Homo sapiens: one gene and its partners. The protein of the gene in region 3 purifies or fractionates together with the protein of the main gene of each other region. This does not show direct contact. Each region holds a gene or a part of one and is shown on either strand. Other genes may lie near its edges.

The links.
Region 1: the proteins of BDH2 (region 3) and FNBP4 purify together in Homo sapiens (affinity purification with mass spectrometry; one large-scale study listed by BioGRID and IntAct). This does not show direct contact.
Region 2: the proteins of BDH2 (region 3) and METTL2B purify together in Homo sapiens (affinity purification with mass spectrometry; one large-scale study listed by BioGRID and IntAct). This does not show direct contact.
Region 4: the proteins of BDH2 (region 3) and TRIP11 purify together in Homo sapiens (affinity purification with mass spectrometry; one large-scale study listed by BioGRID and IntAct). This does not show direct contact.

What each region holds. Positions count from the first base shown.
Region 1 is NC_000011.10:47,718,717-47,722,865, forward strand, and holds part of FNBP4 (formin-binding protein 4), read right to left. Parts: intron 1,371-4,149; coding exon 1,213-1,370; intron 1-1,212.
Region 2 is NC_000007.14:128,479,409-128,483,883, reverse strand, and holds part of METTL2B (tRNA N(3)-cytidine methyltransferase METTL2B), read right to left. Parts: coding exon 4,371-4,475; intron 3,238-4,370; coding exon 3,188-3,237; intron 1-3,187. UniProt on the Homo sapiens protein: S-adenosyl-L-methionine-dependent methyltransferase that mediates N(3)-methylcytidine modification of residue 32 of the tRNA anticodon loop of tRNA(Thr)(UGU) and tRNA(Arg)(CCU).
Region 3 is NC_000004.12:103,096,620-103,101,692, reverse strand, and holds the start of BDH2 (dehydrogenase/reductase SDR family member 6), read left to right. Parts: upstream 1-1,858; 5' UTR 1,859-1,910; intron 1,911-2,890; exon of another isoform or gene 2,891-3,049; intron 3,050-3,938; exon of another isoform or gene 3,939-4,057; intron 4,058-5,073. UniProt on the Homo sapiens protein: NAD(H)-dependent dehydrogenase/reductase with a preference for cyclic substrates. Catalyzes stereoselective conversion of 4-oxo-L-proline to cis-4-hydroxy-L-proline, likely a detoxification mechanism for ketoprolines.
Region 4 is NC_000014.9:92,005,560-92,009,059, reverse strand, and holds part of TRIP11 (thyroid receptor-interacting protein 11), read left to right. Parts: intron 1-1,207; coding exon 1,208-1,420; intron 1,421-2,611; coding exon 2,612-3,500.

The DNA of each region.
Region 1 (4,149 bases), on a different chromosome or scaffold from region 3:
TTGCAGTCAAAGAATGCTGCCCATTTCAGAATGTATACCTTCAAAACAAGGAAAATATGAAATAAAAAATTGTACTTGCTGTGTCTAAAGTCTTTAAAATTTCTAGAATTTTTGAGAAAGCCATCTTCTTGCCTCAGCCTCCCAAGCATCTAGGACTACAGGTGTGAGCCACAGTGCCCACCCAACATGTTTTTTTTTTTTTTTTTTGAGATGGAGTCTTGCTCTGTCGTCCAGGCTGGAGTGCAATAGCACGGTCTTGGCTCACTGCAACCTCCGCCTCGCGGGTTCAAACAATTCTTCTGCCTCAGCGATTACAGGCATTCGCCACCAGGCCCAGCTAATTTTGTATTTTTAGTAGAGATGGGGTTTCACCATGTTGGCCAGGCTGGTCTCGAATTCCTGACCTCGTGATCCACCCGCCTTGGCCTCCCAAAGTGCTGGGATTACAGGCGTGAGCCACCGTGCCCAGCCCAACATGTGCTTTCATCATAAAAAATATTTCTGACCTGAGTGTGGTGGCTCACACTTGTATTCCCAACACTCTGGGAGGCTGAGGTGCAATTACTTGAAGCCAGTTCTCCCTATCCTTTTATTCTAGTCAAGCAAGGTAGTGAAGGATTTTCTTACCTAGAAGAGGTTCATTTAGTTCCTAGTGTGGTGTGCTCTCTCATTAACTTCTGTTCTAGAATAAGTGCAATTGAGAAGGCAGCTCTGTATTCTACCCTGCTTGACTGAAATATAGGGACAGGGGAAAAACTTTATTCTAATTCTGTAAATCATTTGTACAATAATGTGTGTGTGTATAAAAGGGTCTAATTCTATAAATTATTTGTAAAATAAGTTAATATGTTATGTGTGTATGTGTGTGTGTGTGTGTGTGTGTGTGTGTGTGTGTGTGTATAAAAGGGTCCACTGGATCTAGATAGTAAATGATGTACTGAGAGTTAAGACAGGCCTTTGCCTAAGACCAACAATCAACTGGACAAAGTATTACAACTCTGTTGTTTCTGATTTTGAAAAAAGGCTAGCCCATAATTTCTATAAGGAATTAAACATGTTTATAAATTAGAAACCTTTAGATAAATTTACAAGCTGTGATTTTAAGAATATGTCTATTCTAATGCATCTATAACAACCACAACCTACTCCATCTCATAGTAGGTCTCAACCTACTCCAAAACCCCATCTCATCTGTGTTTCCTTTTCTTTTACCTAACCAGCTGCTGCTGTTTCCACTCTTCAATTCGCTTCTGTGCAGTTGATTCCCGATCCTCTTCACTGGAACTAGAATTGTCCTCTTCATCTAACTCACGCTGGATACTCTGCCACTTTTTTACCAAAGATGGCATTTTGGTCTTACTCTTCTTTGCCTGTAACAAAGGTTAAAGGTCAAAAGGAATAGAAAACATAAAATAAGGATAAGCGTCCTCTACAATGGAGGTCAGGATCCTTTTCCCAGTTCTAAAGAATATGCACACTTTAAAAAAGAAAGTAAATACCATTCTAAGTTCTTGCCATAAATTTCTTACCAATTATAAACAAAAAGGCTTGGTTAAAAATCTATAAAGCAGGCCAGGCGCGGTGGCTCAAGCCTGTAATCCCAGCACTTTGGGAGGCTGAGGCGGGCGGATCACAAGGTCAGGAGATCGAGACCATCCTGGCTAACATGGTGAAACCCTGTCTCTACTAAAAATACAAAAAATTAGCCAGACGTGGTGGCGGGCGCCTGTAGTCTCAGCTACTCGGAAGGTTGAGATAGGAGAATGGCATGAACCTGGGAGGCGGATCTTGCAGTGAGCCGAGATCACCACTGCACTCCAGCCTGGGCTACAGAGGGAGACTCCGTCTCAAAAAAATAAATAAATAAATAAATAAATAAATAAAATCTATAAAGCTTTGTAAATGCGGTATTTTATAAAATTATGTCATATAAACTTCCTTTAACCTCCCTATCCTATGTAATTCAAAATATTGCCTTTATCGCGTCTCAGAATTACAGTGTTCCCGTTTTCAAATTTTAAATAGATGCAGTGTTCCTCCCAAGTGATTTAAAAAAAAAAAAAAAAAGCTAAAAAATAAAGCTGGAAAGAGCAACAAAGCAAACTGCCATATTAGCCGGGGGCGGTGGCGGCGGCGGTGGGCGACTGTAGTCCCAGCTGCTTGGGAGGCTGAGGCAGGAGAATCGCTTCAACCCGGGAGTCAGAGTTTGCAGTGAGCCAAGATTGCACCATTGCACTGCAGCCTGGGCAACACAGTGAGACTCTGTCTCAAATAAATAAATAGCCATAATTAAATATGAAAAAAAGCAAACAGATTTTTAAAAATATCGGCTGGGCACGATGGCTCATGCCTGTAATCACTTTGGGAGGCCGAGGCGGGAGGATCACGAGGTCAGGTGATCGAGACCATCCTAGCTAACACGGTGAAACCCCGTCTCTACTAAAAATACAAAACATAAGCCTGGCGTGGTGGTGGGCGCCTGTAGTCCCAGCTACTCTGCACTTCAGCCTGGGCGACAGAGCAAGACTCCATCTCAAAAATAAATAAATAAATAAATAAAAATAAATAAATAAATAAAATAAAACATCAATGGGGCGAGGCATGGTGGGTCACACCTGTAATCTCAGCACTTTGGGAGGCCAAGGTGGGTGGATCACTTGAGGCCAGGAGTTTGAGACCAGCCTGGCCAACATGACAAAAACCCACCTCTACTAAAAATATAAAAAATACAAAAATTAGCCTGGCATGGTGGTGCACATGCCTGTCGCCCCAGCTACTCAGGAGACTGAGGCATGAGAAGTGCTTGAACTGGGAGGCAGAGGTTGCAGTGAGCTGAGAGCATGCCACTGCACACCAGCCTGGGTGACAGAGACTCTGTCTCCCCTCCCCCTGCCAAAAAAAATCAATGATACAGTTAGTTCTAAGAGAAGGTATAATGATATAATATTTTTTCTTTTCGCTTACCTTCATTGTCTAAATCGTCTATAATAAACATACAGATTTTTTGCCCCTTTTCTTGAGACTCCGTTTCAAAAGGTGGTATTTGTAAATGTGGTATTTTATAAAATCAGGTCATATAAATTTCCTTTAACCTCCCTACCCTATGCAATTCAAAATATTGCCTTTATCTCGTCTCCTCAGAATTACAGCGTTCCCATTTTCAAATTTTAAATAGATGCAGCATTCCTATCAAATGATTAAAAAAAAAAAAAAAGCTAAAAAATAAAGCTGGAAAGACCAACAAAGCAAACTGCCATATTAGCTGGGGGTGGTGGCGGATGTCTCTGACTCAAAAAAAAAAAAAAAAAAAAAAAAAAAAAAAAAAAAAAAAAAAAAAGGAAAAAAAAATATTTCTCATAGATTTATTTTTCCCTTATCTACTCCCAAGCCACCCCCTGCCAGAAGAAAGGTTCTACAAAAGCAGAGGGTTTTTTTTTTTTTTGTCTGTTTGATGTACTGCTAAATCCTAAGCCCCTAGGGAGAGTATCTGACAAATATATTAGATATTGATAAGACCAATTTTTATCCCCGTTTTTCTTTTTTTTTTTTAAGACAAAGTTTCACTTTTGTCACCCAGGCTGGAATGCAGTGGTGCGATCTCAGCTCACTGCAACCTCAGCCTCCCAGGTTCAAGCGACTCTCCCGCCTCAGCCTCTTTAATAGCTTATCCCTATGCTTTTTAAGAGAAGCAGTTGTATGTTTGAAGACCCGTCTGGGTGATGCTGGCTCAACAAGTAGGAGTTGACATGACTGAGTGCTGTACTCATGTGAGGACTAGGTATGGGGGCCCAAGCTGATTCTCCTCCCAGCACTTGAGACAAACAGATTTCTTAAATAAGGTCCCCCCACTGAGAAAGTAAGCTGGACATTTCAATTTCTTTTTTCTTTTTTTGAGATGGAGTCTTGCTCTGTCACCCAGGCTGGAGTGCAGTGCTGTGATCCTGGCTCACTGCAACCTCTGCCTCCTGGGTTCAAGCGATTCTCCTGCCTCAGCCTCCCAAGTAGCAGGGATTACAGGTGCGTGCCACCAGGCCCAGCTAATTTTTGTATTTTTAGTAGAGACAGGGTTTCACCATGTTGGGCAGGCTGGTCTCGAACTCCTGACCTCAGGTGATCTGCCCGCCTCGGCCTCCCAAAGTGCTGGGATTA
Region 2 (4,475 bases), on a different chromosome or scaffold from region 3:
GTATGGTGGCGCATGCCTGTAATCCCAGCTACTTGGGAGGCTGAGGCAGGAGAATCACTTGATCCCAGGAGGCAGAGGTTGCGGTGAGCCAAGATCGCACCACTGCACTCCAGCCTGGGCAACAAGAGCAAAACTCCGTCTCAATCAACCAATCAATCAATCAATAATACAAAAATTAGCTGGGCGTGGTGGTGGGCACCTGTAATCCCAACTACTCGGGAGGCTGAGGCAGGATAATTGCTTGAACCTGGGAGGCGGAGGTTGCGGCTAGCCGAGATCGAATCACTGCACTCCAGCCTGGGTGACAGAGTGAGACTGTCTCGAAAAAGACTGCAGAGTGAGGCAGCTGGACGATAACAACTAGGGAAGTTTTCTAGATGCTTCTGATCTGAATGTGAGGAAGGAAGGAAATAGAGTAGTAGAAACAAAGGACATTTTGGAAAGGTACGGAGTCAGGGGAAGACATGCAAGGTGTGACCAGTGCACTGAGGGATAAGAGGACATACTTTATAGGGCACACTCTTGTAGAGGACTTTGAAAACTATGCCCAACAATTTAAACCTGATTCACAGGCAGTAGAAAACATGCCAATTCTAAGCCAGTGAATTACATGAACAAGTGGGTTCTAGTAAGATACTGAACACAGCGATCTTATTTAAATGGCATAAAGAGGCTGTGGCAAAGATGCCATCTACATTCAGTTTTACATTCATTGATGATATTGATGATTAATGGCCATAACTTGAAGCTAAGTCAATCTCCCATTTGAGGTGGGTTCCTCAGACTGTAACTTCAAGAGTAGAACAATCTCTTTTCTTCAGTGTTAGTACTAGGACTTGCCATTTTCTTAGAAATTTCTGAGAACAAATTGTAGAAATATTTAAATGTATATTAGTAATGAGGCTAATGTTTTACTTAATCCTGTTAATGAATACTGTGGGCTAAATTGGCAAAGTATATATTATATGAAACCTTTGAGAAACAGTGGATTCCAGTAATGAATACAGAACTGGAATGTCATTTCCACAAGGGGTTTAAAAACAGCTATAGGGCCAGGAGCCATGGCTCACGCCTGTAATCCCAGCACTTTGGGAGGCTGAGGTGGGTGGATCACTTGAGGTCAGGAGTTCGAGACCAGCCTAGCCGACACGGCGAAACCCCATCTCTACTAAAAATACAAAAATTAGCTGGGCATTGTGGCGCATGCCTGTAATCCCGGGTATTTGGGAGGCTGAGGCAGGAGAATCGCTTGAACCCAGGAGGCAGAGGTTGCAGTGAGCCAAGATTACGCCACTGCACTCCAGCCTGGGCAACAGAGCAAGACTCCGTCTCAAACAAAACAAAACAGGTATGGTATAATAAATATATTTGGTGTTGGTCTTTGTGGTTCCAGGCACAGAGTTCCAAAAACCTTAAGAATTTCCTCAGCAGGCTGGGCGCGGCGGCTCACACATATAATCCCAGCACTTTGGGAGGCCGAGGCAGGTAGATCACCTGAGGTCAGGAGTCTGAGACCAGCCTGGCCAATGTGGTGAAACCCTGTCTCTACTAAAAATATAAAAATTAGTTGTGTGTGGTGGCATGCACCCTTAATCCCAGCTACTAGGGAGGCTGAGGCAGGTGAATCACTTGAACCCGGAAGGCGGAGGTTGCAATGAGTCGAGATTGTGCCACTGTACTCCAACCTGGGAGATGAAGCAAGACTCTGTATCTTTTGTTATTCATGATGAACTCCCTCAGGACCACACTGAATTTATGTTAATGAGATGACCTGGGGTGGGGCCAACACTAGTAAGGGCAAACTGATTGGAACTTTCAGCTTCACCCACCAATGTCCTGAATAGAAATGCAGATTATGTTGTATGAAAACTATTTTCTTCTTCTCCTTTTAAAATTAATTTTCCCATAAGTCTGTGTCCTAGCTGTATAAAAACTCTTGAGGCTGGGAACGGTGACTTATGCATGTAATTCCAGCACTTTGGGAGGCCGAGGCAAGAGGATCACTTGAGCCAGGAGTTTGAGACCAGTCTGGGAAACAAAGTGAGACCCTGTCTCTACAAAAAATAAACAAAAATTAGCTGGGTATGGTGGCATGTGTCTGTAGTCCCAGCTACTTGGGAGGCTGAGGTGAGACGATTGCTTGAGCCTAGGAGTTTGAGCCTGCAGTGTGCTATGGGCACACCACTGTGCTCTAGTCGGGATGACAGAACAAGAGCTTGTCTCAAAACTAAAAAAAAACCCTTGATGAGCTTCCAGGTTGGTGAACACATCCGTGTGCTAGGAGAACACTGCACTGAGCTCCTCAGGGTCAAAGCTCCTGAGCGTGAGATCCTCTGAACCCCACTCTAATTACTTCTTCAGCTGGCTGTTAATCTGTATCCTTCATAACAAACACATAAATGTAAGTAAAGTGTTTCCCTGAGTTCTGTGAGCCATTCTAGGAAATTATTGAACTGGAGACAGGGCTCCCCTGATTTACAGCCTGTAGGGCAGAAACACGGAGGGCCAGATTCACAACTGGCATCTGAAGTGGGGGGCAGTCTTCTGGGACCGAACCCTTAACTTGTGGGATCTGATACCAACTCCAAGTAGACAGTGTCAGAATTGAATTGTAGGACACCCAGCTGTTGTTGAATTGGTCAGTGTTGGCAAAAACCCTGCACATTTGGTGTCAGAAGCGTTCTGCTTAAGTACACAAAACCAGTGTGTTTTCATCAGAACAGGAGACATCTTCATGTATGATAGCTTTCTCAACTCTACCATGGGGGTAATGACAACTCAGCCACTGACTGTTCTTCAGAGATCATGAGAATGGAAAAGTTGAACACATTTGTTCCTTAGAAGAAGAAGAAGGCACTAAACGTTAACACTAGCAAGTTTTAAGTCTAATTTTCCAAATGATAAAGATAATCAAATTAAAACAATCCATAAATGAACAATGTAGAAATCTGAATCTGACATAATCCATATTTTCCAATAACCATTATTGATAGTTTGATGCAGCAAGTTTTGAAAAAATCTTTACTTTTTTTTCTTGCTACATTGCCCTGGCTGGTCTCACACTCCTGGCCTCAAGCAATCCTGCTTTGGCCTCCCAAAGTGCTGGGATTACTGTCGTGAAGCAATGCGCCCAGCCAACCTTCACTTTTATCTTCTTTGCTATCATAAACTTTTACAACATACTTACTTGTTCGTTTGTAAAATTGGAAAGACTGTGTTTCCCACACCACAGCCAACCTGCAGACAGAAATGAACTATTAATCACAGAACTTTCCAGAGTTAATTCCCGAAAGCTAGAAAAGCTAGAAAAATAATAATCAACAAGAATCTGGCCTAACTGTATTAGGGAAGGTGTAGTGACCAGAGCTAAACAGTACCCATGACATTTGTTGATTTTGATGTTGACTTCAGGAACCCTTAAAAGACAAGAACATGGGTTTTTATTAGCAGAAACGAGGTGGTCTAGAAAAAAGGGCAAGGATTGCTTTTATCTTTTGAGTTCTAGCAAATTGTCCTGTAGATGAAGTATTTTCTTACTAAGCTTATATTATTATTGTGAAAATATTTGTAATAGACTGTGCTGAAAAATGTATGAAAAGGGGACCTTGACAACCTTGTCCTAAACACAGTGCTGCGTGGTAATGAAGACAGCAACTATTTATTAAGGGCTTAACAATGTGCCAGATACTGTTCTTAGCCCTTTTACATACATTATCTCCATCCTCATAAGTATAAGGTGCAGAGGCAGCAGTCTCACTGCTCAGAGAGGGTAAGGAAATTGTCTAAGATCACACCATAGGACTCAATCCCAAGGCTAACCAGTTCCAGAACCAGCTTCCAGTAACGTGCGCAGTCCCCATTTATGAATTTACATTATACCAATCTAGACATTTTTCCAGGTCTAGACTCTGCAACACCATCCAAATGCAGAGGAAGAGAATTATCCCAGGCCTAAGAAACAGGCACCATCCTAACTACCCTCTCCATTCCTGTAACTGTATTAGAAGAGAAGCAACAATTTCTTCTGATCTGGGACATTTTTCCAGAGTTATAGCATGATCATGTTGAGCTCTTTCACCTGTATGATACAGTGTCATGTGACAGGTACAGCATGATGCTATTAATACAATTTTTGGAAGTGACATGCTATTCCCGTGTGATCTTTGTCTGTGATGACCACCAGATATCTGGTCTGCACTGAGGGCATTTTATCAGTTCAAAAATGGAGGTGATTCCAGGCTAATATAAGGGTCAAGTCTAGTCAGCATCATCCAATAGAAGTTACTTTTATTGTCAGCCTCTCTATGCTACCTCATGTGCACAAATATAATAGCTTCACATATCCCACTACCAAGACAATAAAAGGTTACCTCCAGTATTCGGTAGGTGGCTGAGGATCCAGGAAACTCATCAGCACAAATTTCCAGGTCACTAATTTTCTGAGTTACATTCTCCTCCACAGGAGGTGTCTGTGT
Region 3 (5,073 bases):
AGTCCCCACCCTTGAAGAAATTTAGTCTGCTGAGAATACTAATGGGTAAGCAAGTATTTGCAATACCATGTGACTTAGGCTGTTATCAAGTAAGCATTGTTGCTGAAGATTACAGAGGGATGCTGAAGAAAGCTACATCAAGAAGCATTGGAGTTGGCTTTGATTAGAGAACTCTCATAAAGTCTGTTCCAAAAGCCTCAAAAGTCAAAGGGCATTATTAGTAAAGCAGGAACAAAGCTAGATGTGATTACAGATTGTTAGAGCCAGCATTAGAAGTTGCTGAAACAATGAACAAGGAGGGACAATTTTACCATAGACCTCATATAGACACATGCAGAAACTAAGTCCAGTTTTTAAAAGAACATTAAAAAGCGCAACTTTTACCATCCATTATAATTAAATTTCTCCAACAATGTCTTCATCATAAGAATCACTAACATGTATTAAGCACCTGTGTGGCAAACATTGTGCTGATGGATTCACAGGCTTAGTCGTTCCTCCTCACCACATCCCTGAGGTAGGTGCTATTTTACCTTCATTTTACAGATGAGAAACATAAGAGGTTCAGAGATTTAAGTGATTTACTCACTTAGCTAGTGAGAGAGAGATATGGGACTTGCTCTAGTCTTACTGACGCCACAGTCTTTGTTCTTATCCCCTGTGACTGTTAGAAATCACTTAGCTCCATGTAACAAAAAACGTGAAAAACACTAAAGTTTATTGTCCTCACATAAGAAGTCCAGAGGAGTTGTTGCCTTGAGGCTGTCATCAGGGCCGCAGGCTCCTTCTCTTGCTGGTCCCTGTCGTTAATGTGTGCCTCTGGCCTCAGATGAACTCACTAAATGGCTGCTCTGTCCCACGGCATCCTATCTTCATTCCAGGCAAAAAGAAAGGGAGGAGCAAAAGCTAAAAGCCTTTCAGAAGGGCTTACTTTTCTATTTAAGAAGGAGGCCCTCCTCAGAAATTCCCACCTGCATTTCATTGGCAACATCTATGCTGCTTGGCCACCCCTAGCAGCAAACAAGGCTATGAAGTAGAGACTTTTGTTTTCCAGCTTTGACAAGTGAAAAAAGGGGAAAGTGAGTTGGATGGGTGCTGAGGAAACCAATTTATACAGTACATGTACAAGTAGCCTACACAATCACTCTGCTCACTGGCACTACAGATAAAGCACATGTTGCTATCCTAACCTAGAGGGCTCATGAGATCTAGTCCTTTCTTTTTGACCTTATATCTCTGTTCTCTTCAGCCAAACTGGGGTTTTTCGCTGTTAACATGTTCCCTTTTAAGCCTCCACCCTGTCATCCAAGTTTCACGTTCTCCCCAACCCCATTCCCAGTGTAGTAAAAGGCTCCTGGCATTCTGCCACTAAATGTGCATTAGTGTTAGAATATTCTGAGCATGAAAAAATAAAAATCACAACTGTATCTCAAACAAAAAGGATTTTTTTTTTTATTTCTCTCCCTTAAAACAATCCAGGCCAAGTGACAGGAAGGCTCCAGAATTTTCAGTGACCTGGGTTCCCTCTATTTTGTTGCTCTGCTATCTTCCACACGCAGTTTCCAGCTCAGCCAATCTCGTCTACCCTGGCACCGCATATAGTAGGCATAAACAAAACAGAGAAGTGGAGAGACTGAAGTGAAGGAAATGATTTCCGCATCCTAAGTAAGCTCTAAGGTGCTTTTCCACTTTTCACCTTCCACTTGGAATTCATAGTTCTACCTGAATTCCACTAGATGGCAGCACATACATTTATAAAGTGTATGGATGGAGCCACTAAACTCTGAAAGCAGGGAAACTACAAATCCCAGCATGCATTATTAAGCGCTTGACTTGCTTCCAGACAAAGGTTGTCTCAAGTTTGTTGCTCAAACCGAGTTCTGGAGAACGCCATCAGCTCGCTGCTTAAAGTAAGATTTCCTAATACTTTTGAAATGAAACTTTAGAACGGAAAGAGGGGAGGTTTAATTTTTAGATGTTGTTTTTTTCTGCACGTTGCCTGTTTCAAAATTAATCTGAGCAGTTAGATCAGTGTAAAGATGGGTTTTTAAAGAGCCTGAAACTCTGTGGTATGTATGTTTTATAAAGTAGCCCAAGAAAAAAGGATTCTTACGGTATCCTAAGTGAAGAGTTTTCTTCCTGGCTCTTGAAAACAATGGCTTCCTGAATATGCTGTTTGTGTCTCTGCTAATCAAAAATCAACATTTTGATTCTAACTTTTGGACTAAGGAAGCCAACATGTATGGTTTTCACATTGGATATATTGAGAGGTGCCTTGTTTTACCATTTCAGGCCGTGTTTGCTCTCATTTTCTCAAAGAAATCTGTTTTAGTTTGAGATTACAGTTTATCAAATGTTAAGGCTTTGACCCCAAAATCTGGTCCCAGAAAGACAGGAAGGCCAGCTAAGAGGAGGTTTTCAGAGTGCATAGAAAGGCTGCTCTGTGCTTCGGCATTTGTTCTGGAAGTGCTTCTTCGGTTGGCAAAGATTCCTAGCAAAACCTTTGACTGGAGGCTTTACAGGGCCATACACCCAATATCACTAATGACAGTGTTGTAAAATAGCTTTTGTGCACCATGCTTAGGATTCAAGGAGGATAAAGTATATCTTTCTAAAGTTATACTTTAGAAACTGTCATTCCATGTTGAAATGATAAACATTCCATGTTTATCTTTTGTGTAAGAAGTAAAAAAGCAAAAATTCATTGCATCAAAGTAGGTCAGGCACTGTTAAAGCCAAGCTTCCCCATCGCCTAAAAAATGTGGACAAACTCAGAGGAAGTCAGTGATTATAAGCTGATCCCTGGAGCCAGTTCTTACATAATTGTGTTAGTCTGCTCCTCCAAGAAGCAGACTCCAAGATAGAATTAAATATGCATGGATTTTATTAGGGGAAATGCTGTTGTGAGAGAGAATGAGGAGAGAACTAGGTAAGGCTGTGAGAGCCATCAGACCTCGATGCAAGTCCACCCGCGAGGGAGGAAAAGAAGGAAACCAGGTTGAGTGGAAGCATCCCAGACAGCTGTGCAGTCTAAGAGAACTTCAGCAAGGTAATAAGGAGCTTCTCTAGCCAGTCATCCGTTGGGGAGGAGGTCTATGTCTCCCAGAAATGAGTCTGCCTTAGTAAGCATGCATGCTCAGGCACTGGCTTGTAACGGCCCCGAGAAGGTGGCCTCAGCACAAACCCAGAGAGGCAGCAGCAGCTGCGCCTCATTGTCCATTACTTCCTGGGGTCAGCGGTCTGCGAGGCACAGGCTCCTGGTGCCACAGTGGGGATTTAGAGAGGCCCGCAGGGCTTTGAGTACCATGAGACAATGCCATGAGATCTTCCCTTGGACCTGCAACAAGAAGGCCTAGGTTTGAATTCATAGCTGCAAAACACTGGGCAAATAACATTTCTTTGAAATTAGCCACGTTGGTGATCAGGTCCTACCTATCTCATCTCTGAAACACTTCTCCAATCCACCTATCTCTCCATCCCTGCTATTTTCTCCAGCCCTGCTATTTCACCAGCGCCCCCACTAGATAACCCTAGCAGCCTCCTAATGGCACCCCATGCTCCTGCCCAGGTATGTTCTCCACAGCAGTCCTTCCAAAATACGAATCTGATCATTTCACACCCTTTCCATAAATCCTTCAGTGGCTGTTGCCTATAGGAGTAACTTGCCCTTCACCATGTGGACCTTGGACCAAGTGTGGAGGTTTGAAATGGAAGAGCATATTGGGTATAAAAAAAAAAAAGTTTGGCTAAAGAGAGAACTGAAATAAGTTCAAAGAGAAAGGACTAGGTAATATAAGCCCTTTAGGCAAGGCTATCAACCTGTACAAAATCAGGCAGATAATGGAACAGAGTGATTGTGTAGGCTAGTTTGCATGTACTGTAAGTTGGTTCATCAACACCATCCAACTCACTTTCTCCTATTCTTCACTTTATCAAAGCTGGAAACAAAAGTCTCAACTTCCAACCTCTTTGCAGCTAGGAGTGGCCAAGTAGCATAGATCTGGTGAATGAACTGCAGGTGGGAATTTCTGAGAAGGTTTCCTTCTTAAATAGAAAGGTGAGACCTCTCTGAAAGCCTTTTGGCTTTTGCTCCTCCCTTTCTTTTTGCCTGAAATGTGGATATGATGCCTTGGACAAAGCAGCCACTTTGTGAGTTCGTATGAGGTCAGAGGCACACATTAATGACAGAGCCCAGCAAGACTTGGAGCCTGTGTCCTTGAAGACAGCCTCATTTGATGGTCATTTGGCTCTTCTCCACCCCCAGCCTCACTACTAGCTCTTTCTCTCACTTTGTGATCTATAATCCAAGCACTGGTGAAATATCTCATGCACATGAGCCCCGGTGTCAGTGTTTCTCAATCATTTAGAAATTACTGATTATGCCTGTTAATGTGTTACTACTGCATGCTTAAACTTTATAAGAGGATCGGCAGCATTGTGGGCTGGACTGTTCACATAGCAAGAGTCTGGAAGTCTAAGTTTAGTTCTGGCTTTCCCATTGACTGGCTCTATGACATTGGGCATGTTTCAGCAGTTTCCTCATCTGTAAAATGGGAGTATTGGATGTGATTTGATTTTTCCATCCTTTTTTTTTTCGATGAATATCTGAGACCAACTATGAAATCTTTTCAAGAGAAAAAAAATCATAAGCAATTGATAGTGCAAACCTCAACAAAAGTTTATGGAAGAGAAATCAAGAAGCAGCCCTGAGTAGTAAGGACACAAATAATGTCATAGCAATGTGTGCAGGGGTCATGGAGAGAGTGATGGTGGTAGTGAGGAAACTCAGCACCAGAGGCTGTCCTCTCCAGGTACTGAAGGAAGGATAAGGTAGGTTAAAGTGCAATATCTGGGCTGGGCACAGTGGCTCAGGCCTGTAATCTCAGCACTTTGGAAGGCTGAGGCAGGTGGATTGCCTGAGGTCAGGAGTTTGAGACCAGTCTGGCCAACATGGTGAAAGCCCGTCTCTACAAAAAATACAGAAATTGGCTGGGCGTGGTGGCAGGCACCTGTAATCCCAGCTACTCAGGAGGCTGCGGCAGGAGAATTGCTTGAACCTAAAAGGCGGAGGTT
Region 4 (3,500 bases), on a different chromosome or scaffold from region 3:
AATAAATTTTTGAATTAGAAGGAAATAAGAATTGTGATACAGATACTCTAGTATAGCTTTTATCGGATCTCTGTTTTTTCAACCAACTCTCCATAGCAATGTTGAGTTTCTTTTATAAGGTTTATATTAGGCTGTTTCTTTGAAGGAATTTGAGATTCTTATTTTTTTAATTTTATTTTTTAGAGAGAGAGAGTCTTGCTGTATTGCCCAGGTTAGAGTGCTGTGGCTGATCATGGCATGATCATAGTGCACTACAGCCTTGAACTCCTTGGCTCAAGTAATCCTTCTGCCTCAGCCACCTAAGTAGCCTCCTGGGACTATAGATAAATGCCATCATGCCTGGTTCAATACTCTATTTAAAGTAGATTCCATATGGGTTTGATTTTTAAAAATCTGTCAATGAAAGAAGGCTTTAATATATAGTTTATTACAAACATCATAACTAGAGACTGAAATAATGTTGAAGCATAGAGAACTGTCCCACTTCTGAGATTTTGGAGAAAGCATTAAATACCAGGTAGTAGACTATAAAATGTATATATACTATCTTTAGGAATGTCAGGTGTGACAGAGGGGAACCTAGTCTGGTTAAAAGGTAAAGGAAGGAAGGAGGATTCTTTCTAGGGTCAAGAAAAAGTTCCATGTTCTAACAGAAGCAAAAGTAATAAGGGAAATTCCTTTAGTAAGAGAAAAGAAACCTTTTATTTTCTAATTAGAGAGGCTAAACATTTGGGTGAAGGAGTGTTGATTTTTTATATTTTTATTTAGTCTGAGGCTGTTGATGACTGGATGTTAGAGAATGGAAGTGAGGAAGGCAGAAAGACTTGCGGACATTTTGGAAAGTATGTATGTATGGTAGGTGGGGCCAGGGGATGGATAAAGGGTAGCCACGGTGGAGCAGGATAGGAGAGGCTCTCAAATGGGAACGTTTTTTATAAAGAAGAACTTGGTGCTAGAGGACAAACTTACAGTCGCTGCATCTGTCTAGGGTTATAGAAATGTTTTGCTTGAAGCTACAAGTAAAATTGCACATGAATGAAGGATGTGGTTTGTTGAATTTCACATACAATTATTGAGGTATTGTTCAATATTATTTCCAATATAGAGCACTTAAATAGAATCCCAAGTTTTGCTTCTATGTATGTTTTTAATCTTTTGGTGTCTCCAATTGAAAGTATGTGTTGCTTTTTTCCTTTTATCATTTCAGGAAGAACTTCAGATGTCACTTTTAAAATTGAACAATGAATATGAAGTAATTAAAAGTACAGCTACAAGAGACATAAGTTTGGATTCAGAATTACATGACTTAAGACTTAATTTGGAGGCAAAGGAACAAGAACTCAATCAGAGTATTAGTGAAAAGGAAACACTGATAGCTGAGATAGAAGAATTGGACAGACAGAATCAAGAAGCTACAAAGGTAACACTGTATTAAATACAGTAAGGCAGCACATTCTACTAAGTAAACTAAACACAGAAATGGTGGGTGTGATTTAATTAATATTTTAGTTCATAGAGATTGACAAACCTTTTTGGTAAAGTGCTAGATAGTAAATATCATTGGCCTTGTAGGCCATATTGTCTCAGTCTACTCAACTCTGTTGTTGTGATACCAACAAATGAGTGTGACCATGTTTCAACAAAATTTTATTTACAAAACAGGCAGCATCCCTGAGTTGGCCAATGGCTATAGTTCGTTGACTCTTACTCTAGTGTAGAGTTAAAAATAAACAACATGCCGGGCGCAGTGGCTCATGCCTGTCATCCTAGCACTTTGGGAGGCAGAGACGGGTGGATCACGAGGTCAGGAGTTCAAGACCAGCCTGGTCAAGATGGTGAAACCCCGTCTCTACTAAAAATACAAAAAATTAGCCGGCCGTGGTGGCAGGTGCCTGTAATCCCAGCTACTCGGGAGGCTGAGGCAGAGAATTGCTTGAACCCAGGAGGCAGAGGTTACAGTGAGCCGAGATCATGCCACTGCACTCCAGCCTGGGCAACAGAGCGACTCTGTCTCAAAAAAAAAAAAAATACTATTTACCATCTTTGGTTTTAAATTCTTATCCCTAAAATGCTTTAAGAAATGACAAGATGGGGCCAGGCACAGTGGCTCATGCCTGTAATCCCAACACTTTGGGAGGCTGAGGCAGGCAGATCACCCGAGGTTGGAAGTTTGAGACCAGCCTGACCAACATGGAGAAACCCCATCTCTACTAAAAATACAAAATTAGCCGGGTGTGGTGGCGCATGCCTGTAATCCCAGCTACTCGGGAGGTTGAGGCAGGAGAATTGCTTGAACCTGGGAGGTTCAAGAGGTGGAGGCGGAGGTTGCGGTGAGCCGAGATTGCGCCGAGCCGAGATTGTGCCATTGCACTCCAGCCTGGGCAACAAGAGCGAAACTCCGTCTCAAAAAACAAAAAAGACAAGATGGGTTTGCTGTAAAATAATAATAAGTAATTTTGTAGTGGGTGTTTTTGATAGAAAAACAATGTTTTTAAGAAGGATTAGAAATATTTGAGGATTATTTTCTATTATGTATGAGATTTTATAAAATTTTCTTTGAGTACTAAAATGAGAACATGTTGTAAAGTCACCATGCAAATTTTTCTTTCAGCACATGATTTTGATAAAAGATCAGCTATCAAAACAACAAAATGAAGGAGATAGCATCATCAGTAAACTGAAACAAGATCTAAATGATGAAAAAAAGAGAGTTCATCAACTTGAAGATGATAAAATGGACATTACTAAAGAGTTAGATGTACAGAAAGAAAAGCTAATTCAAAGTGAAGTGGCCCTAAATGATTTACATTTAACCAAGCAGAAACTTGAGGACAAAGTAGAAAATTTAGTAGATCAGCTAAATAAATCACAAGAAAGTAATGTAAGCATCCAGAAGGAGAATTTAGAACTTAAGGAGCATATTAGACAAAATGAGGAGGAGCTTTCTAGAATAAGGAATGAGTTAATGCAGTCTCTAAATCAAGACTCTAATAGTAATTTTAAGGATACCTTACTTAAAGAAAGAGAAGCTGAAGTTAGAAACTTAAAGCAAAATCTTTCAGAATTAGAACAGCTCAATGAAAATTTAAAGAAAGTTGCTTTTGATGTCAAAATGGAAAATGAAAAGTTAGTTTTAGCATGTGAAGATGTGAGGCATCAGTTAGAAGAATGTCTTGCTGGTAACAATCAGCTTTCTCTGGAAAAAAACACTATTGTGGAGACTCTAAAAATGGAAAAAGGAGAGATAGAGGCAGAATTGTGTTGGGCTAAAAAGAGGCTGTTGGAAGAAGCAAACAAGTATGAGAAAACCATTGAAGAACTGTCAAATGCACGTAATTTGAATACCTCTGCCTTACAGCTGGAACATGAGCATTTAATTAAACTCAATCAAAAGAAAGACATGGAAATAGCAGAACTCAAAAAGAATATTGAACAAATGGATACTGACCATAAAGAAACTAAGGACGTTTTGTCATCTAGTTTAGAAGAGCAGAAGCAGT